7 linked regions of the Homo sapiens genome follow. The protein of the gene in region 1 purifies or fractionates together with the protein of each later gene. This does not show direct contact. Each region holds a gene or a part of one and is shown in the gene's direction. Other genes may lie near its edges. The genes, in order: FDX1, GLOD4, CPOX, NUDT9, PGM1, GCSH and IDH2.

What was found.
Region 2: the proteins of FDX1 (region 1) and GLOD4 fractionate together in Homo sapiens (co-fractionation; one large-scale study listed by BioGRID). This does not show direct contact.
Region 3: the proteins of FDX1 (region 1) and CPOX fractionate together in Homo sapiens (co-fractionation; one large-scale study listed by BioGRID). This does not show direct contact.
Region 4: the proteins of FDX1 (region 1) and NUDT9 fractionate together in Homo sapiens (co-fractionation; one large-scale study listed by BioGRID). This does not show direct contact.
Region 5: the proteins of FDX1 (region 1) and PGM1 fractionate together in Homo sapiens (co-fractionation; one large-scale study listed by BioGRID). This does not show direct contact.
Region 6: the proteins of FDX1 (region 1) and GCSH fractionate together in Homo sapiens (co-fractionation; one large-scale study listed by BioGRID). This does not show direct contact.
Region 7: the proteins of FDX1 (region 1) and IDH2 fractionate together in Homo sapiens (co-fractionation; one large-scale study listed by BioGRID). This does not show direct contact.

What each region holds. Positions count from the first base shown.
Region 1 is NC_000011.10:110,460,238-110,463,165, forward strand, and holds part of FDX1 (adrenodoxin, mitochondrial precursor), read left to right. Parts: intron 1-2,116; coding exon 2,117-2,231; 3' UTR 2,232-2,928.
Region 2 is NC_000017.11:768,281-772,490, reverse strand, and holds part of GLOD4 (glyoxalase domain-containing protein 4), read left to right. Parts: intron 1-1,029; coding exon 1,030-1,166; intron 1,167-1,983; coding exon 1,984-2,070; intron 2,071-2,333; coding exon 2,334-2,447; intron 2,448-2,535; coding exon 2,536-2,622; intron 2,623-4,210.
Region 3 is NC_000003.12:98,590,812-98,595,480, reverse strand, and holds the start of CPOX (oxygen-dependent coproporphyrinogen-III oxidase, mitochondrial precursor), read left to right. Parts: upstream 1-1,869; 5' UTR 1,870-1,976; coding exon 1,977-2,532; intron 2,533-4,325; coding exon 4,326-4,469; intron 4,470-4,669. UniProt on the Homo sapiens protein: Catalyzes the aerobic oxidative decarboxylation of propionate groups of rings A and B of coproporphyrinogen-III to yield the vinyl groups in protoporphyrinogen-IX and participates to the sixth step in the heme biosynthetic pathway.
Region 4 is NC_000004.12:87,453,301-87,457,201, forward strand, and holds part of NUDT9 (ADP-ribose pyrophosphatase, mitochondrial isoform a precursor), read left to right. Parts: intron 1-1,070; coding exon 1,071-1,155; intron 1,156-3,901.
Region 5 is NC_000001.11:63,648,829-63,653,038, forward strand, and holds part of PGM1 (phosphoglucomutase-1), read left to right. Parts: intron 1-2,840; coding exon 2,841-3,024; intron 3,025-4,210. UniProt on the Homo sapiens protein: Catalyzes the reversible isomerization of alpha-D-glucose 1-phosphate to alpha-D-glucose 6-phosphate. The mechanism proceeds via the intermediate compound alpha-D-glucose 1,6-bisphosphate.
Region 6 is NC_000016.10:81,093,092-81,098,050, reverse strand, and holds the start of GCSH (glycine cleavage system H protein, mitochondrial precursor), read left to right. Parts: upstream 1-1,655; 5' UTR 1,656-1,772; coding exon 1,773-1,920; intron 1,921-4,461; exon of another isoform or gene 4,462-4,959. UniProt on the Homo sapiens protein: The glycine cleavage system catalyzes the degradation of glycine. The H protein (GCSH) shuttles the methylamine group of glycine from the P protein (GLDC) to the T protein (GCST).
Region 7 is NC_000015.10:90,095,485-90,099,694, reverse strand, and holds part of IDH2 (isocitrate dehydrogenase [NADP], mitochondrial isoform 1 precursor), read left to right. Parts: intron 1-4,210. UniProt on the Homo sapiens protein: Plays a role in intermediary metabolism and energy production. It may tightly associate or interact with the pyruvate dehydrogenase complex.

The sequences.
Region 1 (2,928 bases):
GTATTTCTCATGGTTAAGCACACTCCTTTACTCCAAAACTTCCTGGTGGTTCCTCCTTGCTCACCAGTGAAACACAGGCCCCTTAACTGATATTCACAGCTGCCTGTGGCTCTGGCCGCTTTTCTGGCCCATCATTCCCCTTGTCCTTGTTTACGCTGTGCAGCAACCAAGCTAAAACACCCATCTTGCTTTAAATGTGACTTGAGCTTCTTTGCATTGTGTTGCCTTTGCCTCACATACTTTTCTCCTTTATCTTGTACTAAATAGTAAATCCTACCTATCCTCCAAAGCCCATTGTGGACAACACCTTCTGTGGCCAGAAGTAAGGGCTTTCTTCTTAGACCTCTCAGAGCCATTTGGCTTTCTCCCTCGGTGGCATTTGCCACAGTCTCACATGTTAACTATCTGAATGTGTCTCATCTCATCCCTTTGATTGAAAGTTTACTCATTAATGCTGGCATTAGCAACCAATCCTCACAGCAGTCCTGTGAGGAATTCTCCTGCTCATCTTGAAGATTAGGTTAGGAAACTACCATTTGGTGAGGTTAAGCAAGTTGCCTGTGAACATGGTATATTAAGTGCTGGATTCTGCACTGCTGGTCTCTTTGGCTGTAACTCTGATGCTGTCTCTTTAGTGCATCCCAATGCCCAGAAAATAAGAAGTGTTCAGTAAGAAAGTGTGGAGTTGATTTGCTCTTCCTCATTGACATTTAGTGTTGTGCCTTTAGGTGCTCAATAAATGCTTCATGAGTACATTAATAAAACCAAGACCTGAATATCAGATTTCATCAAATTGAAGACATGTCAATTGTAAGATTAACATTTCTTTTTATATGCCACTAAGGAAGATAAAAGCACTGCTAATTCAAATATGGCACAGTCTTATCACTTAACATATTTTCTGAATATTGAAAGAGTTATTTAGACTTATCTAGACATAGATTTGAATTATATATCACTGCTAAGAAAAGAAAATGGCTGAGTGCGGTGGCTCATACCTGTTATCCCAACACTTTGGGAGGCTGAGGCGGATAGATCACTTGAGCCCAGGAGGTTGAGACCAGCCTAAGCAACATGGTGAAACCTTGTCTCTACAAAAAATACAAAAATTATTCAAGCATGGTGGTGCATGCCTGTAGTCCCCGCTACTTAGGAGGCTGAGGTGGGAGGATCACCAGGGCCTGGGAGGTGGAGGTTAACAGTGAGCTGAAATCATGCCAGTGCACTCCAGCCTGGGTGACAGAGCCAGACCCTGTCTTAAAAAAAAAAAAAAAAAAAAGAAGGAAAATAAACACAAAATAAAATTAGTAGTAATTCTGCAAAAAAAAAAGGAAATTAGTCATTCTTAAAATGACAAATATTTATTAATTCCAAATTTACACCCTGCTTTCTTTCTGTATTCTTCTTCATTTTCATTTTGTAATCTTTTTAGACTATTTTGAAAAGTAGGTAAATTCGACATGTGTACTTACATACTTTGCATAACTAAGTTGAAGAGACCCCTGTATGAATATTGTCACCAAATCTGTAGCTGTGACATGACCATTACCTGACAGTGTAGCAGTGATTGTAAGATTCCATTGATTTTAAGATGCTTCTTGATTTCCAGAGATGGTAAAAATTTGAGAAAAAATATGCTCTTATAATTGATGACTTAAGTCTATGTATTTATTCCAGATTTCTTCTTTTAAAGGCTTTAAAAAGTGTAGCTTTCTTTTATAGTCTGTGTGGTTTTAATTATCTAGGAATTGATTAATCATTTTCTTGGCCTTGCTAATAACCTCAGTTCTCCACCATTGTGCCTTCTGATTGTTTCCTTGCTTGTCAGCTCTTTGACCAAAAAGTAGTGGTCTGGTGAAACAGTTAATAGATAATAGGAACCAAAGGCTAAAATGAAGCTTTGGTACACCAAGTTTATTGTATTCATATTTACCTTTTGTTATTCTCTAGTTGATAGGGTTGGTTATATCTGTTTTGACATAAAGGAAATTTAAAAGGTTAATAAGTTCCCTGACTGCTTTGGGTAAGAAAATATAAAGACTATCTTAAACAACTGCATTGCCTTGTGAATATATATACGTAATACTAAACCATACCTTCCCCCTTTTCCATACAGATCACGGTTGGGCTGCCAAATCTGTTTGACAAAATCTATGGACAATATGACTGTTCGAGTGCCTGAAACAGTGGCTGATGCCAGACAATCCATTGATGTGGGCAAGACCTCCTGAACTAGAACAAATAGGAATATTTTCATGGAATTTTACCTATTTTTATAATTATTATTTCTTAAAGTGATTAAATGAGAACATGGATGAGTGGACTTCATATTATGACTAGCTTTACTATTTTAATTCACCTTGCATAACTACTGAATTTTGTCATTCTTGAAAGTATGCAATTTTTATTTTGGTTATATTACAAAAATGTCAATCAAATATTAAAAAATAGTTAATGTGATAGAAAAACCTTACATATTTTTTTCTTATGTTTGTTTAGCGACTTTAGCAAAATGTTTTCATATAATCTCATCTGTTTACCTAGAAGATAGGTTAAGGAAATATATTATTATTCCTGTTTGATGTGGGTGAAGGCAGAGATCTAACCTGGCTTGTTTAGGGCCATACCACTAATTAGAAAATCTGTGCTAGAACCTGTGTCTTATTCCTATAAGCTATGTGTTCAGACTGAAACTGGAGAAATTATGACTATTTTATTTATAGTAGTAGTTAAATCTGAATGTGTATGGACAAAAATATTTAATTGCTCAGTAAACTGCTTAACTTCAAAGATAGTTATTGACCTTATAAATAAATATTTCAAAATTTTGATTCGGAAGACTAAGTCTGGACGTAGACATTATAATGCTATCAAAGAAGTTTGATCTCTGTTTTGACTAAACTAGAGGAAAAATGATTGGATGTGTTT
Region 2 (4,210 bases), on another chromosome or scaffold:
GAGTTTTCCATTTTGTGTAATTTATGTAGCAGAAGTTTTTTCTTCATAGTTTTTCTATCTTTGGTGTCAGGTTTAAAGAAAAATCTTCCTCTACTCCAAAATTGTATAAATAATCATCTGTATCTAGTATTTTCATGGTTTCATTCTCTAAACTTATTTTTTTAACCCATCAGGAATGTATTTTGTCATTTATTTCGAAGATGTAAGTTTTTCTTACCAAATGATTAGCCAGTCTTCTTAGCGCCGTCCATTGAATAATGAGGCTTTTCATACTGTCTTTGTTTTTTTTTTTTTTTTTTTTTTCGAGATAGGGTCTCACTGTCACCCAGGCTGGAGTGCAGTAGTGCAGTCTTGGCTCACTGCAGCCTCAACCTCCCGGGCTCAAGCGATCCTCCTGCTTCCATCTCTGAAGTGGCTGGGAATACACACATGAGCCACCACGCCTGTCTAATCTTTTTTTTTTTTTTTTTTTTTTTTGAGACAGAGTTTTGCTCTTGTCTCCCAGGCTAGAGTGCAACGGCGCCATCTCGGCTCACTGCAACCTCCGCCTCCCAGGTTCAAGCAATTCTCCTGTCTCAGCCTCCCGAGTAGCTGGGATTACAGGCGTGCGCCACCACGCCCAGCTAATTTTTTTTATTTTTTATTTTTAGTAGAGACAGGGTTTTGCCATGTTGGCCAGGCTGGTCTCAAACTCCTGACCTCAGGTAATCCACTTGCCTTGGCCTCCCAAAGTGCTGGGATTACAGGCATCAGCCACCACACCCAGCCAATTTTTTTAAAGTTTTCATACAGGCAAGGTCTCAGTGTTTTACCTGCATTGGTCTTGAATTCCTAGGCTCACGCAATCCTCCTACCTCAGTCTCCCAAAGTGCTGGCATTACAGGCATGGGCCGCTGCACCCAGCTTCATACTGGCTTAAAATCCCTTTCTTATCATAAACTGAATTTGTAAGTATACATGCGCATGTTTTGGTCTTTCTATTTTATTCTATTAAATTGATCTGTCTATTCCTGCTTTATTACCCAACAGATCCTGTATTAAAAGTAACTCTAGCAGTGTCTGATCTTCAAAAGTCCTTGAACTACTGGTGTAATCTACTGGGAATGAAAATTTATGAAAAAGATGAAGAAAAGCAAAGGGCTTTGCTGGGCTATGCTGATAACCAGGTGAGCAATCTTGGAGAAGAATAACCTGTTACTTTGAATTTGGCTTGTAAACGAAGCTTATAAATGGCTTATAACCTTTATAAATGAAGTTAACATGAAGGTTGTTCCCATAGTTTCTTCACAGTGATTCAATATTTATATAGATAAACAGAAGAAAATAAGTGATAACCTTACCACCCAGATATTACCTTGTTTATATTTGGGGATATATCTCTTCAGAAGTGGAATTGCTTAATCCAAGAGATTGAATGGATTTAATGCAAGATCTTTTTCATCTTCTTTTTCTAATAACCCAGCGTTTGAGCACGATTTAGTCCTTGCACTTTGACCCTGCAATTCTACTCCTAGGAATTATTTTACAGATGTGCTCAACATACATCGGCACAAAGAAGTGTGTGCAAGGTTATCTGCTGCAGCATTGTCTGTAATCACAATGTGTAAGAATTTCAGTGTCCTATAGATTAGAGACATATTTCAGTAATTTACGGCTCATTCATGGAATGGATTACTATGTCGCTAGCAAAAAGATTGAGGCAAATCTTTATGTATTGACATGGTAACATTAAGTGGAGAAAAACAAGGAACAGAATAATTTGTAAATTATACCACCATTTGTGTAAAAAAAAAAACATAGATGCGTGCAGTGCTTCTAGAAGGATACACAGGAAAGTGTGGACTAGTTGTCTCTGGGGTGAGAGTAGGATAGAGACTCAGTTTTTACTTTATTCCTTTAGTATATAATATTTGAATTTTTCTACCACATACGTGTAATGAATGTATAACCTGTTCCAAAAAATAACCCCCTTTCCTATTTCAGTGTAAGCTGGAGCTACAGGGCGTCAAGGGTGGGGTGGACCATGCAGCAGCTTTTGGAAGAATTGCCTTCTCTTGCCCCCAGAAAGAGGTAACGCTTGATACCAGATCGTTTGAGCTTTCTGACTAGCTAGTTCAACCCAGCTAAGAACTTTGTCCTTCCCTTCTTGAGGTCCTTTTTGATTGTGGCTTTAGTATCAAGTTCAGCAGTTGTTTCAAGAGCAGCTGAGATAATAAATTCAAACAAATGGCGCCTTGGTTCTTTATGGTATCTGATACTCCTCTAGGACTGACGAGGGCCGTGTCCTGAGTAGTGTGTGACCCCTGGCTCACGTTGCCTCTGTTTTCCTCAAGTTGCCAGACTTAGAAGACTTGATGAAAAGGGAGAACCAGAAGATTCTGACTCCCCTGGTGAGCCTGGACACCCCAGGGAAAGCAACAGTACAGGTGGTCATTCTGGCCGACCCTGTAAGTATTTCTCAGGCAGGGGGCAGGCTGGACCAGGGGTTTCTTCAAGGATGTCTTTGGCAGGTGTCTTTTCTCTTTATTGGTGTAGGACGGACATGAAATTTGCTTTGTCGGGGATGAAGCATTTCGAGAACTTTCTAAGATGGATCCAGAGGGAAGCAAATTGTTGGATGATGTGAGTCCCATTTCTACATTTATGTCACCATGGGCCTGAGAGGGATGGCATTAAGTGTGTGTGGGAGGAGACTAAGCAACAGGGTCCAGGTTCTTAATGTCAGAACCACGTCCTTTCGCTGTTGGGTTGACCTCAGCCAAGGACCGATGTCTTCACTGCCACCTGTGTAGACTGCTTGTCTAGACTTAGCATTTGTGCCTTACCACAACCTCAGGCTGCCCTGGAACCACTGCTGGTGGATCTGTGCTTATTCTGCTCTCCACATGGAGATGCCTCTATCCGACCCCCTCAGCTCTCCCCATGGAGATGCCTCCATCCGACCCCCTCAGCTCTCCCCATGGAGATGCCTCCATCCGACCCCCTCAGCTCTCTGCATGGAGATGCCTCCATCTGACCCCCTCAGCTCTCCCCATGGAGATGCCTCTATCCGTTCCCCTCAGCTCTCGCCAGGGAGATGCCTCCATCCGACCCCCTCAGCTCTCCCCATGGAGATGCCTCCATCCGTTCCCCTCAGCTCTCCGCATGGAGATGCCTCCATCCCATCCCCTCAGCTCTTGCCATGGAGATGCCTCCATCCGTTCCCCTCAGCTCTCCCCATGGAGATGCCTCCATCCCATCCCCTCAGCTCTCCCCGTGGAGATGCCTCCATCTGACCCCCTCAGCTCTCCCCATGGAGATGCCTCCATCCGTTCCCCTCAGCTCTCCCCAGGGAGATGCCTCCATCTGATCCCCTCAGCTCTGCAGCTCCTTTGATCATCTCTTCTCCATTCTGCAGCATCAGTCTCTTCTTTCCAGTGAGTTATTCTCGCCAGCGTGCAAACAGGCGCTGAAAGCTCCCATCCTTTAAAAACCTTTTACTGACCCCATATCTCCTCTCCAGATTTCTCCTTCTAAAAATCTGAGTGCGCACTGTTTCTCTCTCTCACATCCTCTCCAGATTTCTTCTTCTAAAAATCTGAGTGCGCGCTGTTTCTCTCTCTCACATCCTCTCCAGATTTCTTCTAAAAATCTGAGTGCGCGCTGTTTCTCTCTCTCACGTCCTCTCCAGATTTCTTCTTCTAAAAATCTGAGTGCGCGCTGTTTCTCTCTCTCACATCCTCTCCAGATTTCTTCTAAAAATCTGAGTGCGCGCTGTTTCTCTCTCTCACGTCCTCTCCAGATTTCTTCCTCTAAAAATCTGAGTGCGCGCTGTTTCTCCCTCTCACGTCCTCTCCAGATTTCTTCTTCTAAAAATCTGAGTGCGCGCTGTTTCTCTCTCTCACGTCCTCTCCAGACTTCTTCTTCTAAAAATCTGAGTGCGCGCTGTTTCTCTCTCTCACGTCCTCTCCAGATTTCTTCTAAAAATCTGAGTGCGCGCTGTTTCTCTCTCTCACGTCCTCTCCAGATTTCTTCTAAAAATCTGAGTGCGCGCTGTTTCTCCCTCTTATGTCCTCTCCAGATTTCTTCTAAAAATCTGAGCGCGCGCTGTTTCTCTCTCTTACGTCCTCTCCAGATTTCTTCTTCTAAAAATCTGAGTGCGCGCTGTTTCTCTCTCTCACGTCCTCTTCAGATTTCTTCTTCTAAAAATCTGAGTGCGCCCTGTTTCTCT
Region 3 (4,669 bases), on another chromosome or scaffold:
CCTTTGTGACCGGGCAAATGTTCAAAACAGTCTGTTCTTACTTAGCTTTAACTAACTTTATGGGCTTTACTAACTTTATGGGTATTTTTAGCAGAATTAGAGCAATAATGAGGGGGTTTCTTACAAATAAACGTACCAGGGAGGTTCCTTTTCATTTGATGAGGTTCATTTATCATCACCAGGCCCAGCCCAACCCCATCACAGGCATCCAGTAGAGGCCATCAACCCTTCCTACAATGACAATTCTTATTTCCCTTCCTCCACTTCTAACTTGGCCTCCTGGCAGGTTGCACTATGACCAAAAGCTAATTGTTTTTCTTCCCTAAAAGTCGCTTAGTCACTTCTCAATCCAAGCCTTTACTTTTCACAGATTCTCAGTGGTGAGGCTTCGGCAAGCACACCCACCTTGCTAACATCATGTCCCAGTGAGAGCTGCCAGGTACAGTTGTGTGTGGACAAGATGCCAATTGATCTGACTCAAAAGCCATTGAAGTTCCATCAGTGCATCCTGCCACAAAGAAAACACTTGTGGGAAAAGCTACCAGTGGCTTAAATTATTATCTACTACTAGAAATTAAAATCATCCCGGAGACTTATGGGACAAATTAGCCCATGACAATAGTTCTCACACTTTTACGTCCAGGAACCATGGAGCTGTGGTATGGTTACAGGGGAGACAAAGACCTGCCTGTCAAATCTATTAGCTTCTTTCCTCATTTCTTTAAAGGGTGGGGGAAGGGAGACAGAGTAGGAGGAAGTGTGGATATTTGCCTTGCCTAGTTTGTAGCAGTTGTTGTAAGTATTAAACGTGAGCAATATTTGGGAGCACCCTACAGTAGTAGAATAACTATTTTTTAAATTCTTATTTGTTAATCACCAAAACACACCAAGTCAGGAATTTTCTACTGGTTAACCAAAACAGTCACGTTGCTTTTCCTTTTTCTAAAATAATCAAGTAGGCACTATAGAAGCAAGGCCTGGGGAAACCTTTTTTTTTTTTTTTTTTTTCTGAGACAGAGTCTCACTCTGTCACCCAGGCTGGAGTGCAGTGGTGCGATCTCGGCTCACTACAACCTCTGCCTCCCGGGTTCAAGCGATTCTCCTGCCTCAGCCTCCCGAGTAGCTGAGCCTACAGGTGCACGCCGCCACGCCCGGCTATTTTTTTGTAGTTTTAGTAGAGACAGGGTTTCACCATGTTGGCTGGTCTCGAACTCCTGACCTCATGTGATCCAACCGCCTCGGCTTTCCAAAATGCTAGCATTACAGGCTTGAGCCACCGCGCCCGGCCCCAGCCTGGGGAAATCTTAAGGACAGAACTGTGATGTGGACTCGATCACAGAAAGTCTTCTCCTCGACTCTCTTCCGAGTCCATTACTAGCTTCTCCCACTCTCTTTAGAAAACCATCCTTCAGCAAAGAGTTTCCCAGCCTGCCCATCCCCTCTAAAAACTCTAGAGGACCAGGACCCAGGGCGAAGGGCGGGTCTATACAGATCCTGAGCCAGGCTCTGTATTCGCAAATCCTGTTTGAAAATGTAAGCGGGACTGGGATCTCTGCCACATTTCCGCCCCAGTCCGCCCTCAGCCTCCCAGCCCTACTCTATCTTCTCTCCTTGGCTGAGTAAACAGCCGACCCGAGGTTGTACGTGACAAGAAAGCCTCTTTTATCTCTCCCGTCCCTTCCACAGCACCGTCCCCGCCCCACTCTCTTCCCTTCGGACCAGCCCTTCTGGGCGCGTCGGATTCTTATCTCCCGCCCCGCGCAGGGACGCCGCAGGCGGCGATAGGATCCGGACTACAGCTCCCAGCGCGCCCCAGTTCCCGCCCCCGCCTCCGGAGCCCGACGCTGCAGCGGCTCTTCTCGAAAGGTTCTTTCCGCCTGTGCAGCTCGCCGGCTCAATACTCCGGGGGTCTGGGTGGGGGGCTCAAACGCAGGGCTCTGGGACGCAGGCACTGCTCCAGGTGATAGTGCGGGAACATGGCCTTGCAGCTGGGCAGGCTGAGCTCGGGCCCCTGCTGGCTCGTGGCGCGGGGCGGCTGCGGAGGGCCCCGCGCCTGGTCCCAGTGCGGCGGCGGAGGGCTCCGAGCCTGGTCCCAGCGCAGCGCAGCCGGACGCGTCTGCCGGCCCCCTGGCCCGGCTGGCACGGAGCAGAGCCGCGGGCTGGGGCACGGCTCGACGTCGAGAGGCGGCCCCTGGGTGGGGACAGGGCTGGCCGCGGCGCTGGCGGGGTTGGTGGGGCTGGCCACCGCCGCCTTCGGGCATGTGCAGCGGGCGGAGATGTTGCCTAAGACCTCGGGGACGCGGGCCACTTCGCTGGGGAGGCCGGAGGAGGAGGAGGATGAGCTGGCCCACCGCTGCAGCAGCTTCATGGCCCCGCCTGTGACCGACCTGGGCGAGCTGCGAAGGAGGCCGGGCGACATGAAGACCAAGATGGAGCTGCTGATTCTGGAGACCCAGGCCCAGGTGTGCCAGGCTCTGGCACAGGTAGACGGGGGCGCCAACTTTTCTGTGGACCGGTGGGAGAGGAAGGAAGGTAAGGAGGCCGGCCCCTGGCGGGAGTTGGAGACAGGGAAAAAGGGTCAGGTTCCAGGTTGCAGACAGAAAATATAATAGTTCACAATATGGGATGGGGTAGGTAGGGGGTACCCACAGAGAGGCCGCTTGGTTAGAGGCCGCTGATAAAAAGATGGACACGAAAGGGTCACTAGCCCTCTGCTTGCAGGTATGGACCCGGATCAGCTGTCACTGTAGTACTGCATTTCAAAATCTTTGCAATTCCGTAGCAGCATTTTTTTGTAGAACTCTTAAGGGGTATTTGCAGCTAACAAGCTTAGATGTCCAAAGTTCGTTACTGAACATAAATTTCAATAGATTATGGAACACATTTTCTCTCCTTCTCTGGGTGAATTTGCCCTTTTTCCTCTTTAGGAGATGGAAAGAACTCATCTCCTGTGCGCTAAGTGTCGGCTAAACTCCTCCAGCCAGGATGTCATTGTGTCAGAATCTTCCCACTTCTTTTTACTGTTACACAAGATATATTTGATTCGTTTCTCAGTAGCACTACCAAATGCACGCATCAGATTTCCTGCTAGGAAAATCTTCTCTTCCAATATCAAAATACTTGAGCATCAAAACCCAGTTCTCGTAGAGGCGTACATTCATGACCATGTTGTTGCCCATACAGTGAAACCCCACATCTTGAGTGGAAACTTGAAAGATTCCTGACTTTTCCTAGCTGGAAATACAACAGCAGCTTCTCACCGGCAGATTTTGAGCTGTGATACTGACACATCTATATTAAATGAAGTTCAGTCTAGTTTTCCATCTTATGTTTTCAAGCAAAGACCACTGAACCAGGACACAACCTCAAGTACTAGACCAGCTGTGTGATCCTCAGAAGTTACTTTTTTATGGCTGTTTTCCCATCTATGAAATATATATGTATTTCATCTCTTTTAATCCTCATACTACATATATATATATATATATCCATATACATATATATATATATATATGGATGGAATATATGTGAAGTGCTTAGAATATTGTCTGAAGCATAGACAGCATTTAGACAAATTGTTGCAGCCACTTGTCAGCAGTTTGATCTTGGATAAGATGTTTTGCCCCTCTGGTCCTCAGTTTTCTCATTTGGAATATATGAGGGTTGTACTGGATCATCTTATGTCCCATCCAGCTCTAAATGTTCTTAGAAATAAAACAAGCCAAACATGAACTTTCATGAAACATTGCCCTTGCAGTGACCCTAATACCTTAAGAAAAAAAATTAGTAAGGCTGATACACGTGAATACTAATGTGCGTCTCACTCACTCTAAGGTTCTGAATCCCTTCAGAATTTGATTACCTACTGTTTCTTAATTGCTTGTAAATTAAAAGGCAAGCAGCCCACTGAGAAAGAAATTTTTGAAACAATATAGATCTCTTAAATTCAGTAATAATAGAACACCCTTCAAGTCTACCCATTCCTATTTTTAACCTTAGCTTTCTCTCATATATCATAACTGATAGATGCCATTCTGAACAGTAGAATCTGAAGGGAGAATATTCCAGTGATTTATTTTAGATGATGGCAGGAGAATGTTGAAGAAATATTCAGTTTAGTGATATGAGAAGGTCTAGTATTTGCCCAATATTAATAGCATATGTCATAAAGCTAAGCTAGTTATCTAATTGTATTGTACATAAAATGATAAATACACTGATATAAAAGATTTGGGAAACGGGAAAATAACCATCTTCATGCAAGTGTTGCTTTCAGTTTTGCACATACTCTTACATTCTCTCCTTTTTTACATTTCTATACACAGGAGGTGGCGGCATCAGCTGTGTACTTCAAGATGGGTGTGTTTTCGAAAAGGCTGGGGTGAGCATTTCTGTTGTTCATGGAAATCTTTCAGAGGAAGCTGCAAAACAAATGAGAAGCAGAGGAAAAGTTCTGAAGACTAAAGATGGTAAATCAGACAGTCTTGATAGTCTCTAATAGTCCCTGCAAACCTTATTTTGCCCACAAGTTTTATTTATAAAATAAATATTGCTTCTGAAAAAAGCCATTCGGGTTCATATGCCGCACGTTGACAAATACTTTTTTAAAATTATGTTTTTAAGTGACAAATTAAAAAGCAGCTTTTGAAAATTGACTTGGAAATCATAT
Region 4 (3,901 bases), on another chromosome or scaffold:
TCTACCTTTGTATTTCAGAAACTATAATCACAGAAAAATACTTAAGTGATGGACTCTTAAAAAATCATATTGCCCAAATTTGACTGTTCTCAGATTCTGAAATTAGAGTTTGAAGTGTTGAGGGTTTCATGATTTATTTATTTGTTTTGAGACAGTGTCTGGCTCTGTCACCAGGCTGGAGTGCAGTGATGCGATCTCGGCTCACTGCAACCTCTGCCTCACGGGTTCATGCGATTCTCCTGCCTCAGCCTCCTGAGTAGCTGGGACTACAGGTGTTCTCCACCATGCCCAGCTAATTTTTGTGTTTTTAGTAGAGACGAGGTTTCACCATGTTGGCCAGGATGGTCTTGATCTCTTGACCTCATGATCCGCCCACCTCCGCCTCCCAAAGTGCTGGTATTACAGGCATGAGCCACCACGCCTGGCCTGAGGGTTTCATGATTTTTAAAGCTGCCTCAAAAGAGAATATTGTTCTTTGGGAAATTTGAAACAAGCACATGAAGTACTACATTAAAAGTTTTATGATATTTACATTTCTTTCTTTTTTTCTTTCTTTCTTTCTTTTTTTTTTTTTTTGAGACAGAGTCTCGCTGTGTTGCCCAGGCTGGAGTGCAGTGGCGCGATCTTGGCTCACTGCTACCTCCACCTCCTGGGTTCAAGTAATTTCTCCTGTCTTAGCCTCCCGAGTAGCCGGGACTACAGGCACCTACCACCATGCATGGCTAATTTTTTTTGTATTTTTAGTAGAGACAGGGTTTCACCTTGTTGGTCAGGCTGGTCTCGAACTCCTGACCTCAGGTGATCCACCCGCCTCAGCCTCCCAAAGTGCTGCGATTACAGGCGTGAGCCACCGCGCCCGGCTATTTACATTTCTTTAAAAAAATTTTGATAGAAACACATAATGTCAAATTTACCATCTAAACTGTTGAAGGTACAGCTCAGTAGCATTAAGTATGTTCATGTTGTTGGGCAACAGGATATTTACATTTCTGATGCTAGTGAAGGTAACATGCTCTGCTGTACTCACTACACCTTGGACTTTTAAAAAATTTGTCTTCTTTTGAAAATAGATATATAAGGGATATGTTGATGATCCTCGAAACACTGATAATGCATGGATGGAGACAGAAGCTGTGAACTACCATGACGAAACAGGTAACTTTATATTTATTAAACTGGCTGGGATTAAAGGATCAATTTAAGCCATTAGCCCACTAAGGCATGATTAAATCTGGACTATTTAGCATCTTAAACCAATTAACTGTTGATTGTAGGACTGTAGTTATATGAAAGCAAAATTGTTGGTATTAAAGGAATACATAGAAGAAATCTTCAAAACTTTTATCACCAGTGACTAAATTTTCTTTAATCCATTGGTAACATTTGAAATTAAGGATGAAATTATGGGCTAAAATGATATGCTTTAAAGATGTCAGATTATTTATTGAGTATAGTTCCCTTTTTTTGCAAAACAAAAGCAACTGGGATTTGGGTAGGAAGTATGGCAATGATAAAGGAAATGGGATTTATATCTTACTATTTCAAATATTTTTATAATAATCTTGGATTGTTAATACACAAAGCAATAACAAAAAATTCCAAGTACTGAAAAAATTTTAAATGAATGCTGTTTCTGGTGTATGGAATTTAAAATTTTATGAGGAGGGTCAAACCTGTTATTACAGAAGGAGAAAGGAAAAATCTGCTGTCTTAAAAATTAATTTGGTCTTAATGTACACATTGAATGGCTCCCTTGAAACATATTTTATTGCTAAATTTGATTTGTTTTTATTTGTAGCATAAAAGTGGGGGCACCATGCTAGAGAAATGAAATGAATGTTCCACTCATAGTTCTTTCTGAGCTGTGTAACCTTGTACAAATCATTTGTCCTCTTGGACTCAGTTTTTTCACTTACAAAATGGGCTAGAACTAGATCTGTCATTTCCATATCCTGTGCTTTTGCTTGTTGAACTTGGAGGAAACTCCTGGGACCATTTTCTATTCCTGTATTTCCACTAAGGTGTATTAGAAGAGTTTATCCTAGTATGAAAACTTAGAAGAAATATGCAGATGTAAATTAGAAGCAGGTCTGTACAACTTTAGTACTGATAAATTTGTTAACTACTTTAAAGTTTTGGAGTTAAAAACAATGACTGATCCTCCAGAAGTTGATTATAGAGTTTATGGATTGTTCACTGTTTTTACCCTATCTTTTTCTCTCTTTAAACTTAAAAAATTTTGTTTTGATAATTCCAAAATCTCTGCCATATTTGAGTTCGGTTTTAATATTTGCTTTGTTTCTTTAGGCTATGTTTTTTGCCTTTTAGCGTGCTTTTAGTGCTTTTTTTTCTTTTTTCTTTTTTTTTTTTTTTAACCCCGAGATGGAGTCTTGCTCTGTCACCCACGCTGGAGTGCAGTGGCATGATAATGGCTCACTGCAACCTCTGCCTCTCGGGTTCAGGCGATTCTCCTGCCTCAGACTCTCAAGTAGCTGGTACTACAGGCATGCACCACCATGCCTGGCTAATTTTTGTATTTTTAGTAGAGATGGGGTTTCACCATGTTGGCCAGGCTGGTCTCAAACTCCTTACTTCAGGTAATCCACCCACCTTGGCCTCCCAAAGTGCTGGGATTACAGTCATGAGCCACTGCGCCTGGCTGTAGTGCTTTTTTGAAAATTGACCATGATATAACTTGTAAGGGAACTAAGGCAAATAGTTCTTTAGCGTGAGGTTTTATGTTTATCTGGCTAGGAGTTAGGCTGTGTTTTTTGTTTGCTGTCATTGTATGTGTCAGAGGCTAAAATTTCCTCTAGTTTTGGGTTTCCCTGGAGACTTATTAAATGAGGTCTGAAGCATGCCCTTCTTTCAGCTGTCTTCCCCTTTTATTAAACAGGAGTCCTATTGATAGATATGGTGGTAAATTCTAGAGGAAGGGGAATCATAGGAGAATATATGGTTAGATGTCAGTCTTTTAGTGAGCCTGTGGCCCTGGGCTGTGACCCTTCATATGTTATTCTCAGCTTCCCTCCTTCCTCCCCAATCCTTAGGAAAGACAGGAAATCCAGCGGGGGCTGGAGTTGGGTATTTCCTTTCCCTCAGGTTGCTTAGGGCTTGGTAAAATAGTTTTCCTTGAGGGCAGAGTGATCTGGGTGTATTTGAAATTGGTTACCTTTCCCCTCTCCATGTTAGAAAGGAGAGAGGATTTTTCTCCAGTCTTCACCTGGTGGCTTTCTTGGAGGTAAAGCTCACTAAAATGTAGGCCCCCTCTTCATACTGGTATGGCTGACCCCCTAGGAGATTTTATCTTTCAAGCTAGTCCAAAGGTCAGCTTTCAGCAGTTAGTTACCCTTTAAGTGTTCCTACCAGGTGCTGACTCCAGCGGTAGGCTTCTCTCCCTGGTCAGTTGTGATTCTCTGTATTTGCCTGTCTCTCCAGTTTTTGGTATGGCAGTGTGGTCTCTACTAAGAATACAAAAAAATTAGCTGGGCGTGGTGGCAGATGCCTGTAATCCCAGGTACTCGGGGGGCTGAGGCAGGAGAATCGCTTGTACTCAGGACGCGGAGGTTGCAGTGAGCCGTGATTGTGCCACTGCACTTCAGCCTGGTCAACAACAGCGAGACTCCATCTAAAAATAAATAAAATAAAATAAAATATTTAAGTAATGTTGCCTTGAATACTTTAATAGGCTTGTCTCTATTTCATCAGAATAAATTCTTCAAAGAGGAATTACTGGATTGCTTATTGTATCTTCAGTGCCTAGTACAGTCTGGCACACAAGATGCACTCTGATATTTACAGAATGAGTGCTTGTCAAAGAAAACTTACTTTTTAAAAGCTCTTGATAAACATTGCCAAATTTCCTACAGAAATATTCCATTTATATTCCCAGCAGTGATTG
Region 5 (4,210 bases), on another chromosome or scaffold:
GTCAGCCATAAAGAGTGAGGCTTTAAAAGTTTAGCTAACATAATCAAAAGAATAAATGCTTTATAAGCATTTTAAATGTGTCCATTGGGTGGACATGATCATAACATTGGATTTGGATTCAGAGAAATGGATTAGAATTTTATTTCTTCCCCTTACTAGATTGGGGAGCCATTTAGCTTTTCTCTGTACTCAGTTTTGTCATCTGTAGAAATGGGAATAACAGTCCAGCTGTTGAGAGGATTAAATGAATAATGAGTCTGAAAATGTTTTGTTAACTTTGGGGCACTGAAAGCCTAGAAACTTTTTTTCATAAATTATAGAAACAGTTATGCTTAGTCCACATCGACTTTTCTGCCTTGTGAAATAGGTCCCCAAGGGCTATATACTTGTCAATAATTTTTTTAATTTATTCAACAGATATTTACTGTATACCCGATTTCCATCGGGTACTTGGAATTCAGCAGTGAACAAAATACTTAGAATACTTAGTAATTATTCCTTATCATGCGTACTTCTATTTTTAAAAAGCATTAAAAAATTTTTGACAGTAGTACTTTTCACTAATTCCAATTTGCCTTTCCCCCAGTTAGTGTAAAAATCTAACAAGAATTTTTCTGGACCTCAGTATTCCAATTATAGAGAGAAAATATGGTAAAAAGGATATTAGATGAATTGTTTATGTATAAGAAATGAATAGGTGTAATTTCTCTGGACCTCAGTTGCCTGTTCTATAAAATGGGTGAGTTAGACTAGAGAATTTAAAAAATATATCCCAGATTTTATAGTCCGTGATCTCTGGATAGTCAAGAAAGAATTCAACTAAGTAAATTAAGCTCCTTAATCAGAATTATTTTATTAACTTTGGACGGATTCATTGATCTCTTTCTCTCTCACGTTACTGTTTTGTGGAAGGAATAAGTAATAACTACCTGACACCACACAGTAGCCCTGGGAACCAAGGCAAAAAAATCCCTACTTTATAACAGACAGAAAAACCTGGTCATTCAGAACAGCAGTCATGAACTGTCTAGAACCTAGAGTATCATAAAAACAAGGCCATGTCTGTTTTTGTGCCCTAAGCACCCAACTCATAGTAGAGACTGCATAAATACGTTTTGAACCGATAAATGAATGAGTTAACAGGTGAACAATAGCCAGAGTAGAATAAGGTTAGGAGGGGTTGTTCAGAGAAAGGGTCACACCCTTGAATTAGTCACAATCCTCCATATAAAAACTATTTTAACATGATTTTATTAATTATCAAATATAATTGCTAACCAAGTATTACAAATCAAATCCTTAGTACCTGCATTTATGATTAGTTAAAACTCCATTATACCTTCCACTTACTGAACAAAAGCGCTAGGCACTTTTGCATGCATTGTCTCACTTTAGCCTCAAAACAGTTATTGATAAGGTAGCTGAGATTCTGAGAGATAGGGCAGCTGGCCCTGTAGTCACACAATTAATAGCCAATAGAGGCTGGATTCATAGCTCATCTGTCTGATTGCAAAACCCAGACTCTTCTATTCCACCCCTCTGTGCCTAGGGTTTAGAAAACATTTCTCTGGAGTACCCAGAGGTCAAAAATGTAAAGCACAAACACCTGGTTGTAATTTCTTGTTGTTTATCATGTTAACTAGGGGAAAGAGCTGACTTTAAGATTAAGGGGACTGTTTGGCCCTTGATTCATAGAATCCTGGAGCCAGAATAGGCTGGCCTTAATTCCTCAGCATTTCTCATGTCTCAGAGGTGTCATCTTGCATATATGATATCTATTTCACGATTACAAATAAATATAGACTCTGCTATCTTGAGCTTCTAAAAAATAACTCTCTCAAGAGGGTGTATGCCACTAGGTCAAGAAAAGCCACCTGTACAAGTCTTTAACATCATAAGAAAGAAGTCAAAAAGAATTCTTGAAGGAAAACTCATCTTTATAGAATTTCATTTGTGATGCACTTTTTTCCTTGGCCCTTTTTCATCCGCACTGGGCCTCTTCTGTCAGGGTGAACCCAAAGGACCTTGGACCAAAATCCACTGCCACTGAAAGGAGGGAGGCAGAACTTAAAATAAAACAAAATTTAAAAAAAAAAATTGGGAGAGCATCAGGATAAACAGCTAATGCATTTGGGGCTTAATTCCTAGGTGATGGGTTGATAGGTGCGGCAAATCACCATGGCACATTTACCTATATAACAAACCTGCACGTTCTGCACATGTATCTTGAAACTTACTAAAATTAATGAAAAAAAAAAAGGCATTTTAGATGTAAAGAGTCAGTGTTTGGCGTCTTCATCTGGTCGGTGAAAACTTGGCCCTGCTTTAGGAAGCTCCTGTGGAGCTGGAACTCTGCTTAGTCAAAATCTCAGCAGCCTCAGGCAGGTCTCAGGCTGGGAGCAGGCCCAGCATTCACCCCAGAGAAGCCCAGGGAGCTTGGAGGAGAAGTGCCTGAGTCACGTGCTCCTTTCAAGAGAGTTCTCCAGAGATAACATTGCTTTTCATTTTACCTCCTCAGGATGTGGTGACTAAATGTTAGATAGCATCTTTCAAAAGCCTTTGAAACATCTTAGAGCTTTATTCTGTAGAAATGCCAAGATGGGTGTTTTCTGCTTATTCAGAAGCTCATAACCCTTCCCTGAAATCCTCCAAACCCTTCCTTTCATCCCTGGCCTGTTCCATCCCCAGTGACTGACAGGCCTGTATTTTTTTTGCCAGCTTCTTCTGAAGTTAGATAGTTTTGCGGGAGGGCCAAACAAATGATGAAGAAAGTGCTGACTGATAGGCCTTGGTGTGATCTGCAGTCAGCCCGTGGGCCTCAACTTCGTGACTTCTTCCAGGTATGATTACGAGGAGGTGGAAGCTGAGGGCGCAAACAAAATGATGAAGGACTTGGAGGCCCTGATGTTTGATCGCTCCTTTGTGGGGAAGCAGTTCTCAGCAAATGACAAAGTTTACACTGTGGAGAAGGCCGATAACTTTGAATACAGCGACCCAGTGGATGGAAGCATTTCAAGAAATCAGGTAGAAACAGACCGGTGTGTAAGTGAGAGAGAGACCTCAGAGCTTCATCTCTGACATCTCAAGGGAAAAATTAAAAAGTTCCTGTTGGCTATTTTTCTTTTGCTGCTGTGTTTTTCTAGGGTAGCTGTTCTTACCTGGTTTTCTGCTGTCCCACGTGACTCTCACATGCACTCGTTGGGACAGTGGTTTATGCCCTTGTTCTGTGCACTGTCCAGTACCCTCATTCTGGGATTCTTAACCTGGACTCCAGAGGGATTTTTGCACTCTCTGGAATGATATGCAAGATGATGTGTCCATTGTACATGCAGAAAGGAGCCCCAGAATCTAAGAAAGAGGGAGAACTGTGGGAACTTAGATGTCAACTCCTCTCTTTTCTGTCAGCAGATTATAGCAGAGTGACAGCATGTAAGTGGCATTATACTTATACGTTTCTCTCGTATGTTCTAATTTCTAAAGGAGAGAAAAATAGATGAGGCATTCCCAGACTTAGAAACGTTGACCATCGTCATTCGCAGCACATGAGTGGCACCCCACCTAACACAGCAGTACCTGGCAAGACGCCACAGTTTAGGACCTGGAGCATCTCTAGATGTGGACAGAATTGTTAGTGCTTCCCTTACTGTGTGCCGGGTACCCTAGGCTGCAGGCTGGGTCAGGCTTTCTCCTGGCTTCTCATGAACACTTACGCACCAGGGTTCTCTCACCTCTGCTTCTGTTGCCTGTTGTCACAGAGTAAACTCATCTCTCACAATTCATAATAGAATAAAGAGCAGGATGAAGATTCTGTTACAACCTCCCAGTTTACTTTTTTCCAATTGACCCAGATTTTTGGCCTGGTCCTTGTCAAGGCATCTCATAGGGTTTGGAAGGGCCGGGCCGTGGGATTTACTGGAGGCTTCCCTCTGGGGAGCAGGCAGTGAATGGATGGATGGGCCACAGCAACCCTCAGTGCCTGGAGTCTCCCCTCCTCAACTTCTAGCACAAGTGGTTTCTCATCCTTGTGCCTGTTTGCCATTTGTGAGAACTTGGGGTCCAGTTTGGATGATTGTAAATTATGCCTGAGATAATTAGAAGAGAGACCTGTGGTTGAGGAAGAAAGGGGTGTAGAAAAGGAGTGGAGCTGAGGGATGGCAGAGTGGGACAGAAGTTTGTGTCATTAAGCCTTCAGAGACAGAAGGGAAGTCAA
Region 6 (4,959 bases), on another chromosome or scaffold:
CCCTGCTGATAAAATAGGATGCGGTAAAGGAGCTGGCCAAAACTCACCAAAACCAAGATGGCGACCTCTGGTAGGTCTCACTGCTCATTATACGCTAATTATAATGCATTAGCATGTTAAAAAAAAAACAACTCCCACCAGCGTCATGACAGTTCACAAATGCAATGGCAACGTCCAGAGAAGTTACCCTATAGTCCAAAAAGCGGAGGAACCGTTAGTTCTAGGAAATCCCTGCCCCTTTTCTGGAGAACTCTTGAATGATCCACCCCTTGTTTAGCATACAATCAAGAAATAACTATAAGTACACTTAGTCGAGAAGCCATACTGCTGCTCTGTCTACGAAGAAGCCATTCTTTTTTTTCTTTACTTCTCTATTAAACGTGCTTTCACTTTATAGACTCTCCCCAAATTCTTTCTTGCATGAGGTCCAAAAACCCTCTCTTGGGGTCTGGATTGGGAGCCCTTTCTGTAACAGTACTAAAGGTGTGTGTGTAGCTTAAGGTGTTTTTCAGAACAGTATTTCTTTGCTGACTCATGGCCACTCCATAAAATCTGTGTTAAAGGTGAGGTTTTTCCCAGAACCTAATTTTTTTCTGACTTCTTGGATTGGGATGATGACTTCGGCTTTTCTCGGAAGGCCTTGGTCACACCGCTGGCCGATGAAACAAGGAATTGTGCACACTGGGTCTCAGCTCTCTGCGTTTTGAATATTTCTGCATTAGTGACTGGCTTGGGTCCAGTCTCCACCAAGAAGCCACTTATGACCCTTGGACAAGTCTTTATTCCTTTTTAAGTAAGCTTCTGGATTCTGCCGGTCCTGTTTGGGGTCCCTGGGGCTCTTTGAGACAGGAACGTTACAGAGCAGTTGAAGGAGAATAGAAACTTCCAGGCTGCAGTTCTGTCTAACAAAAGGAAACTGTTGAAATAGCTGCACAAGCTATGGGCTAAGACCCTGAAAAACCAGGGTGTGGGTCAACCTGGCTAAAACCAACTGGACCCAACGTGGTGTGGCTTTGACCTAGGCTTCACCTAGGACTCATTAACATACTAAGTCACACACCCACCGGCACCACAACAATTCCGGGAACACCCATATTTGGTGTAAAAATGGGTGGCACCACAGTTCTGACAAGTCTCCACCTTATTCCAGAAACCTTTGTGTATATTCCATTTCTCAAAGAAACCCATAAAGATGGAAACCCCAAGCCCCATTGTGTGGCCCTCTTTTGAGTCCGCCCTTTCTTCAGTGTGTACTTTGCAGTAAACCTCTGTACTTTCACGACTTTCCGACTTGTTCTTGAATTCCTTCGTGAGGTGGTGAAACCACCTTTGAAAACTTATGACAGAGGCAGTAAAAGAGATACACATGTGGAAAGGAACCCAGTCTGGGGCTAGGCCCCGCCCCCCTCCTGCGGGCAGCCCAATCATACCCAGGCCCGCCGCGCTAGTCTCCGCCTCTCGGTGCTGCCTCTTCCGGGCCTCAGGTTCTTCCCCATGCCCACGCCCCTCTTTCGCGTCGCCGTATCCGAGGTCGCGCCAGGCCCTGGAGTCCCCAGTCTCCGCGTGCTGGCCAATCAGACCCTGCCTCGCCCCCTCGCCTGGGAGTCTCCGCCCTCCACGCTCTGCCCAGTCAGGCTCTGTCCCGCCCCCGCGGCACCGCCTCCGCGCCTCCATCCAGCCGGCTCCCTCCGGCCGCGAACTGCCCCTCCCCGCCCCGCCTCCCGGCGCGGGTGGCCGAGGCGTAGCGCTGCGACCCCCGCACCCCTGCGAACATGGCGCTGCGAGTGGTGCGGAGCGTGCGGGCCCTGCTCTGCACCCTGCGCGCGGTCCCGTCACCCGCCGCGCCCTGCCCGCCGAGGCCCTGGCAGCTGGGGGTGGGCGCCGTCCGTACGCTGCGCACTGGACCCGCTCTGCTCTCGGGTAAGCGCGGCGGGCACGTGGGCGGCTGCTCCCTCCCCGCCTGGGCTGCTTGTCCCGGGCCCAGCGGGACACGGAGGACGCCGGGGCACCGCTCCTGAGCCACCGGGGCGGAGCGAGCGCGGACCCTGCCCCCTTCTTATTTCTGTTGGGATCCCTGGCTCTGCGGCCGCTTCTCCCCCTTAAGTAGCGGGAGGACCCGCGAGTAGCCTTTGCCCTAGGGATTGCATGCAGCCGGGAGGGGAGGCCTGCGGGACACCGAGGCGGGGGTGGCCCGGCGGGTCCGGCGGGCAGGTCGGCCGCTTGCTGCAGAAGCCAGGCACGTGTCGCTTAAGCGTCTCGGTGGCCTTAAGTTTATCTCCCATCTGCGTGCATCGTTGAGACCCCAAATGGGGAGGCCTTTAGTTTACTAAATGGACCGTTACTGAGAACTCCGAAGTAAAATTAAAACAGAAGCGCTTATTAAAATTAAAGCACCAGGCAGGGCGCGTTGGCTCATGCCGGAGGGCGGATCACGAGGTCAGGAGATCGAGACTATCCTGGCTAACACGGTGAAATCCCATCTCTACTAAAAGTACAAAAAATTAGCCAGGCGTGGCGGCATGCGCATGTAATCCCAGCTACTCGGGAGGCTGAGGCAGGAGAATCGCTTGAACCTGGGAGGCAGAGGTTGCAGTGAGCCGAGATCGCGCCACTGCACTCCAGCCTGGGCGACAGAGCAAAACTCCACCTCAAAAAAAAAAAAAAAAAAAAAAATTAAAGCGCCAGATCTAGATTTTTTTACTAGATAAAACAATCATAACTTTGAAGATTCAGCTATTTCCCCAAAACAAGTAAGATAAAGTCTTCTGGACTCAACAGAAGTTCTGCTAAAGTTTGTATTGGATCATTCATGTGTGTGCTTGCTGAAATGAGCCCTAACTCAAACGGACTTGAAATAACTGGGAAACCTGCCCATGAATGTTTCGGCCATTTGTGCTACTTCAGCACAATTATTGCAGGGGAAAAACAATTTTCTTTTTTTTTTTTTTTCTTTTTATTGAGACGGAGCCTCGCTCTGTCGCCCAGGCTGGAGTGCAGCGGCGTGATCTCGGCTCACTGCAAGCGCCACCTCCCAGATTCAAGCGATTCTCTTGCCTCAGCCTCCCGAGTAGCTGGGTTCACTGGCGCCCGTCACCACCTCCAGCTGAGTTTTGTATTTTTAGTAGAGACAGGGTTTCGCCACGTTAGGCTGGTCTCAAACTCCTGACCTCAAGTGATCCACCCGCCTCAGCCTCCCAAAGTGCTGAGATTACAGTCGTGCGTCACCGCGCCAGGCCAACAATTTTCTTTACGCCCAAATGTTTGATACACTGACTGCTCCTCTGCTTCGATTGCGTAGATCAGTGATGGCTCTTGTCTCATTAGCTCATTGTTTTAGAAACCTGTTTGGAGCTGGAATGGTTGATAAATTTATTCCAAAATTTGTAGCATAAAGATTTACTTATGCTGTCTTGCTAATAGTCTGTCCGCTCTGTTTCTGATAGGGATCCCTACATCACTAATTTGAATACAAAGGTAAAGCATTTCTCAGATAAGAATTTAGTTTCAAGTCTGTGGTTTTCGTTCCTTTTTTTTTTCTTCTTTTTTGAGATGGAGTCTCGCTCTGTCGCCCAGGCTGGCATCCAGTGGCAGGATCTTGGCTCACTGCAACCTTCGCTTCCCGGGTTCAAACACTTCTCCTGCCTCAGCCTGTGGAGTAGCTGGACGACAAGAGCACACCTCCATCTCAAAAAAAAAAGAGAAGAAAAATTGACTAATACTAATATAAAATATTTTATCTGACTAGTGACATTGAAAAAGGAAAATGCAAAATTTTCATAAATTGCTCACAACTCCTAATTTTCCGAGGCCAAAAACCACCTTTTTCAAGGCCCAGTTAGAAAGTAATTATTGTCCAGGCACGGTGGCTCATGCCTTTAATCCCAGCACTTTGGGAGGCTGAGGCGGGCGGATCACCTGAGGTCAGGAGTTCAAGACCAGCCTGGCCAACATGGTGAAACCCTGTCTCTACCAAAAATACAAAAAATTAGTCGGGCGTGGTGGCACGTGCTTGTAATCCCAGCTCCTTGGGAGGATGAGGCCGAATCACTTGAACCCGGGAGGCAGAGGTTGCAGCGAGCCTAGATTGCACCACTACACTCCAGCTTGGGCGACAGAGTGAGACTCTGTCTCAAAAAAAGAAAGTAATTATTTACCTAATCTATCCACTTCTTCCTGTCGGGCCAAGGGTTAAAGGAGAATTGTACTAATCATTGCCTTTAGCCTAAACAGCATGCTTAGTAAAATAAAGACTTAGGTCTTTGAATCACTGCAACCTCTGCCTCCCAGGTTCAAGTGATTCTCCTGCCTCAGCCTCCAGGGTAGCTGGGATTATAGGTGCCCGCCACCATACCCGGCCAATTTTTTGTATTTTAGTAGAGACGGGGTTTCACCATGTTGGCCAGGGTGGTCTTGAACTCCTGATCTCAGGTGATCTGCCTGCCTCGGCCTCCCAAAGTGCTGGGATTACAGGCGAGAGCCACTGCTGTTGGCCAGGACTGAGGGGTAACATTACCTGTAATGTTGCCGTCTCCCTCTAAACTTGGGGCCAACAATTTTCTTTACACCCAAATGTTTGAGACACTAACTGCTCCTTGTTAAGGAGAATTGTACTAATTACAATTAGTAATTGCTCGGTTGCTAAAATGAGGGTCACAGCAGCCTTACTCCTAAAATTATCTTCACAGGTAGGCAAGATGGCAAGGTCAAAGAAGGTAGTCTCAGGTGGTGTTTATAGTTGTCCAGTGCTTACTTTGAAAAGGTGTTTTAGCTTCAAACTGCTCATAATTGGCATATAACCGGCGATTTGTAGCAGAGTGAGAGAATTAAGTGTTAAAGACAAATAACTATATACTATCTATTTTCCTCAGAATCCTCTTAATAAACTTTAAAAAATCACGTCATTCTGCAACTTTTTTTTTTTTTTTTTGGAGATGAAGTTTCGCTAGTCGCCCAGGCAAT
Region 7 (4,210 bases), on another chromosome or scaffold:
CTTGAGGCTGGGAGCTCCAGACCAGCCTGGGCAATATAGTGAGACCCCATCTCTACAAAAATAAAAAATAAAATTAGCCAGGCACGATGGTGCATGTCTGTGGTCTTAGCTACTCAGGAGGATCATTTGAGCCCAGGAGGTCAAGGCTGCAGTGAGGTACAATTGTGCCACTGCACTCTAGCCTGGGTGACAAAGCAAGACCCTGCCTCCCCCTTCTCCCCCCAAAAAGAGAAGAGCTAAGGAGAAACAGGCAAGAAAGGTGTGTGCACAAAAGTTTGTATAGGGCAGCCAGAAAAGTCCTCACTGAAGGAATCGCTGAGGAGGGGAGGAAGCAGGCCATTTTCGGTATTGGGGGAAGAGGGACTCGCAGGTGCCAAGGGCATGATGGAAGAGCAGAGAGGATGGTGCGAAGGCTGGCTCAGCAGGCACCAGGTGGAGTGACAGGATGAGGTTCGGCAGTGGGGTCTGTAGAGGGCTCACAGGCCATTTTTGAGAGCTTTCGCTTTTACTTTGCAGGGTTTTGAGAGGAGTATCGTTACCTGATTTCCATCTTATCGGGAGCATTCTAGCTTCAGGGACCTGGCAAGAGAGGATGATGGCTTGGACCTGGGTGGTGGCGCTGGGGATGGTGAAGAAGTGGTTGGATTCTGGATATATTTTGAAGGAGGAGCCAGTAGTGGGGAAAGGTTCCAATTCAGGCGATTTTACATAAAAATCTAGATACGCAGCAGGCACTCACTTATGGCAAGGGTGGGCTTGTCTGAGGGTGGCTTCTGGTTTTGGTGGTTTGGATGTGAGAGAAGGGAAGGAATGAAGGATGACACCAAGGAGTCTACTAGAGTTTGTTCCAAAATGGCTGTTCTGGCCGCGTGCGGTGGCTCCCAGGACTTTGGGAGGCCGAAGCAGGCGGATCAGTTGGGGCCAGGAGTTCGAGACCTGCCTGGCCACCATGGTGAAACCCGGTCTCTACTAAAAATACAAAAATTAGCTGGGTGTGGTGGCAGGCGCCTGTAGTCCCAGCTACTCAGGGGCTGAGGCAGGAGAATTGCCTGAACCCAGGAGGTGGAGCTTGCAGTGAGCCGAGATCACGCCACTGCCCTCCAGTGTAGGCGACAGAGTGAGACTCTGTCTCAATACATACATACATACATACATACATACATGCATGCATACATACATACATACATACATAAAATATACAAAGTTGCTGTCCTGCCTTCTTGAGCCCCCAGGAATTGGAACCTTTCCCCACTCTCTGATCTTTTGCTGGGACATGCTGACTGAGCAGCCTTTCTGCTGAGAGCATGGGTAGGAATGTGGAGGGAGCAGTTATGCCTGGGGCTGGCTGCCTGCGGCTGGACCTCTAGCCTCCTGCTGGGAGCAGCAAGAAGCCAGGGATGTGTTTTGAAATCCTTACTTGGTATTGGGTGCTAGGAGCCCCAGACAGGGAGGAGAGTCAGCCTAACGTGCCTCTGGTGACTGGTGTAATTCCATCCTGCACTCTCGCCAAGAGGACAGTGTTTGTGCAATGCATCAGCTGAAGATTCGTGGTGGCTGTCACTTCGGAGGTTTTCAGGGAGGCCTAGCTGCTGCTCTGTGTATTTCAGGTAGCTTGTCACCACTTATCTCTCAGAGAAGGGCAGACCATGGCTGTATCTCCACCATACAGGCTGAACAGCAGACAGGGGTCTCAAACTCCAGTGCCCTGGGCCACACTGGAGGGCACTTGGCTGTCATGGAGTGAAGGGAGAGGCCGCCTTCAGCCCAGCCCATCCTTGCCATGAGTGAGTGCCTGCTGCATTTCTAGATTTTTATATAAAATCTCCTGATTTTTTTTGACTGGTTTAAATTTTTATTATTTTGGTAAAAAACGTATAAAACTTACCATCTTAGTCATTGTTCAGTGTACAGTATTGTTAAGTACATTCGCACTGTTGTGCAGACATTACCACCATCCATCACCAGAACTTTGTCACCTTGCAAAACCGAAACTCTCTACCCATGAAACAATACCTCCCCACTTCCCGTCCCCAGTCCCTGGCAGCCACCTTTTTACTTTCTGTTTCTATGAATTTGACTATTCTAGGTACCTCATGTAAGTAGAAGCATATAGTATTTGTCTTTTGTGACTGGTTTATTTCACTTAGTTAGCATAATGCCCCCCAGGTTCATCCACTTTGTAGCAGGTGTCAGAATTTCCCTTCTTTTCAAGGCTGAATCATATTCCATTGTATGTAGATAACAGTAGTCCCCCTTATCCTTGGAGGATGCATTTCAAGATCCCCAGTGGATACCTGAAACTGCAAAGCCTGTAGATACTATGTTTTTTTCCTATACATACAGATCTATGATAAAGTTTAATTTATGAATTAGGAACAGTAAGAGATTAGCAATAATAACTAGTAATAAAATAGAACAATTATAACAATATACTGTAATGAAAGTTACATGAATGTGATCTCTTAAAATATCTTACTGTACTGTACTCACCTATTTTCAGACTATGGTTGACTGTGGGTAACTGACACCACAGGTAACTGACGTCATGGAAATAAAACCTTTGATAAGGGGGGACTGTATCACATTGTCTTTATCCATTCATCTGTGATGGACACGTGGGTTGCTTCTATCTTTTGCTGTTGTGAACATTGCTGCTATGAATGTGGGCATACATATATCTCTTTCAGACCCCGCTTTCGATATTTTTGGATGTATATACAGAAGCAGAATTGCTGGATCATATAGTAATTCTTGTCCTTTTCTTTTCTTTTTTTTTTTCGAGACGGAGTCTTGCTCTCTTTCGCCCATGCTGGAGTGCAGTGGCGCGATCTCAGCTCACTGCAAGCTCCGCCTCCCGGGTTCATGCCATTCTCCTGCCTCAGCCTCCCCAGTAGCTGGGACTACAGGCGCCTGCCACCACGCCTGGCTAATTTTTTGTATTTTTAGTAGAGTCAGGGTTTCACTGTGTTAGCCAGGATGGTCTCGATCTTCTGACCTCGTGATCCACCCGCCTCAGCCTTCCACAGTGCTGGGATTACAGGTGCGAGCCACCGTGCCCGGCAGTAATTCTTTTCCTTTTAGCTAAGGAACACCCATACTGTTTTCCACAGCAGCTGCACCATTTCACATTCCCACCAACAGGGCACAAGAGTTCCAATTTCTCCACATCCTTGCTAGCACTTTATTTTCTGTTTTGTTTTTCTTTTCCTGATAGTAGCTCTCTTAGTGGTTGTGAGGGGATAGTGGGGTGATATCTCATTATGGTTTTGATTTGCATTTCCCTGATGATTAGTGATGTTGAGCATCTTTTCATGTGCTTGTTGGCCATTTGTATATCATCTTTGGACTTGAAATGTCTATTTAAGTCTTTTGTCCATTATATTTATTTATTTATTTTGAGATGGAGTCTTCCTGTTACCCAGGCTGGAGTGCAGTGGCATGATCTCTGCTCACTGCAACCTCCACCTCCTGGGTTCAAGCAATTCTCCTGCCTCAGCCTCCCAAATAGCTGGGACTACAGGTGTGTGTCACCACACCAGGCTAATTTTTTTTCTATTTTTAGTAGACACAGAGTTTCACCATTGTGGCCAGGCTGGTCTCGAACTCCTGACCTCAAGTGATCTGCCCTCTTCAGCCTTCCAAAGTGCTGGGATTACAGGCATGAGCCACGGTGCCCAGCCAGTCTTCTGTCCATTTTAACGTTGAGTTATTTGTTTTATTGTTGAGATTTACTGATTTTTAAAACTTGGTCACCAATTAAGATTTTTTTAAAAAACCAGTACCTGGAACAAGCAGAACAAGTCTCTGCTGGCCTTGGCTCATGTTGCTGTTCTCAGTTCCCCTGGGATGTTTGCTTCCAGGGAGGCCTGGGCACTCCTGACTTTGGTGACAGCCCTGCTTGCTCTCTCTCTGTTACCTGTAGGTTTCCCCTTCCACATTCACTGCCTCCGGGCAGGCACTGTTGTGTTTTAGGCATTTCAGTATCCCAGTGGGGTACTGGATAAGTGCTTAGTTAGCACCTGCCGGTGAGTAAATAATCAGGTCCTGTGGTCTCTGAGGGTTTGACACATCAGGTCTTTGATCTTGACCTTGAACTCTCCTAGCCATGCCTGCCTGAAGCCCAACCGTGGAGCCCAGGCTGAGGCTGAAACCTGAAGAACTGGCCCCAAGTGAGTCTCTCCTTAGGGCTCCTGATTATGATAGTTCATTT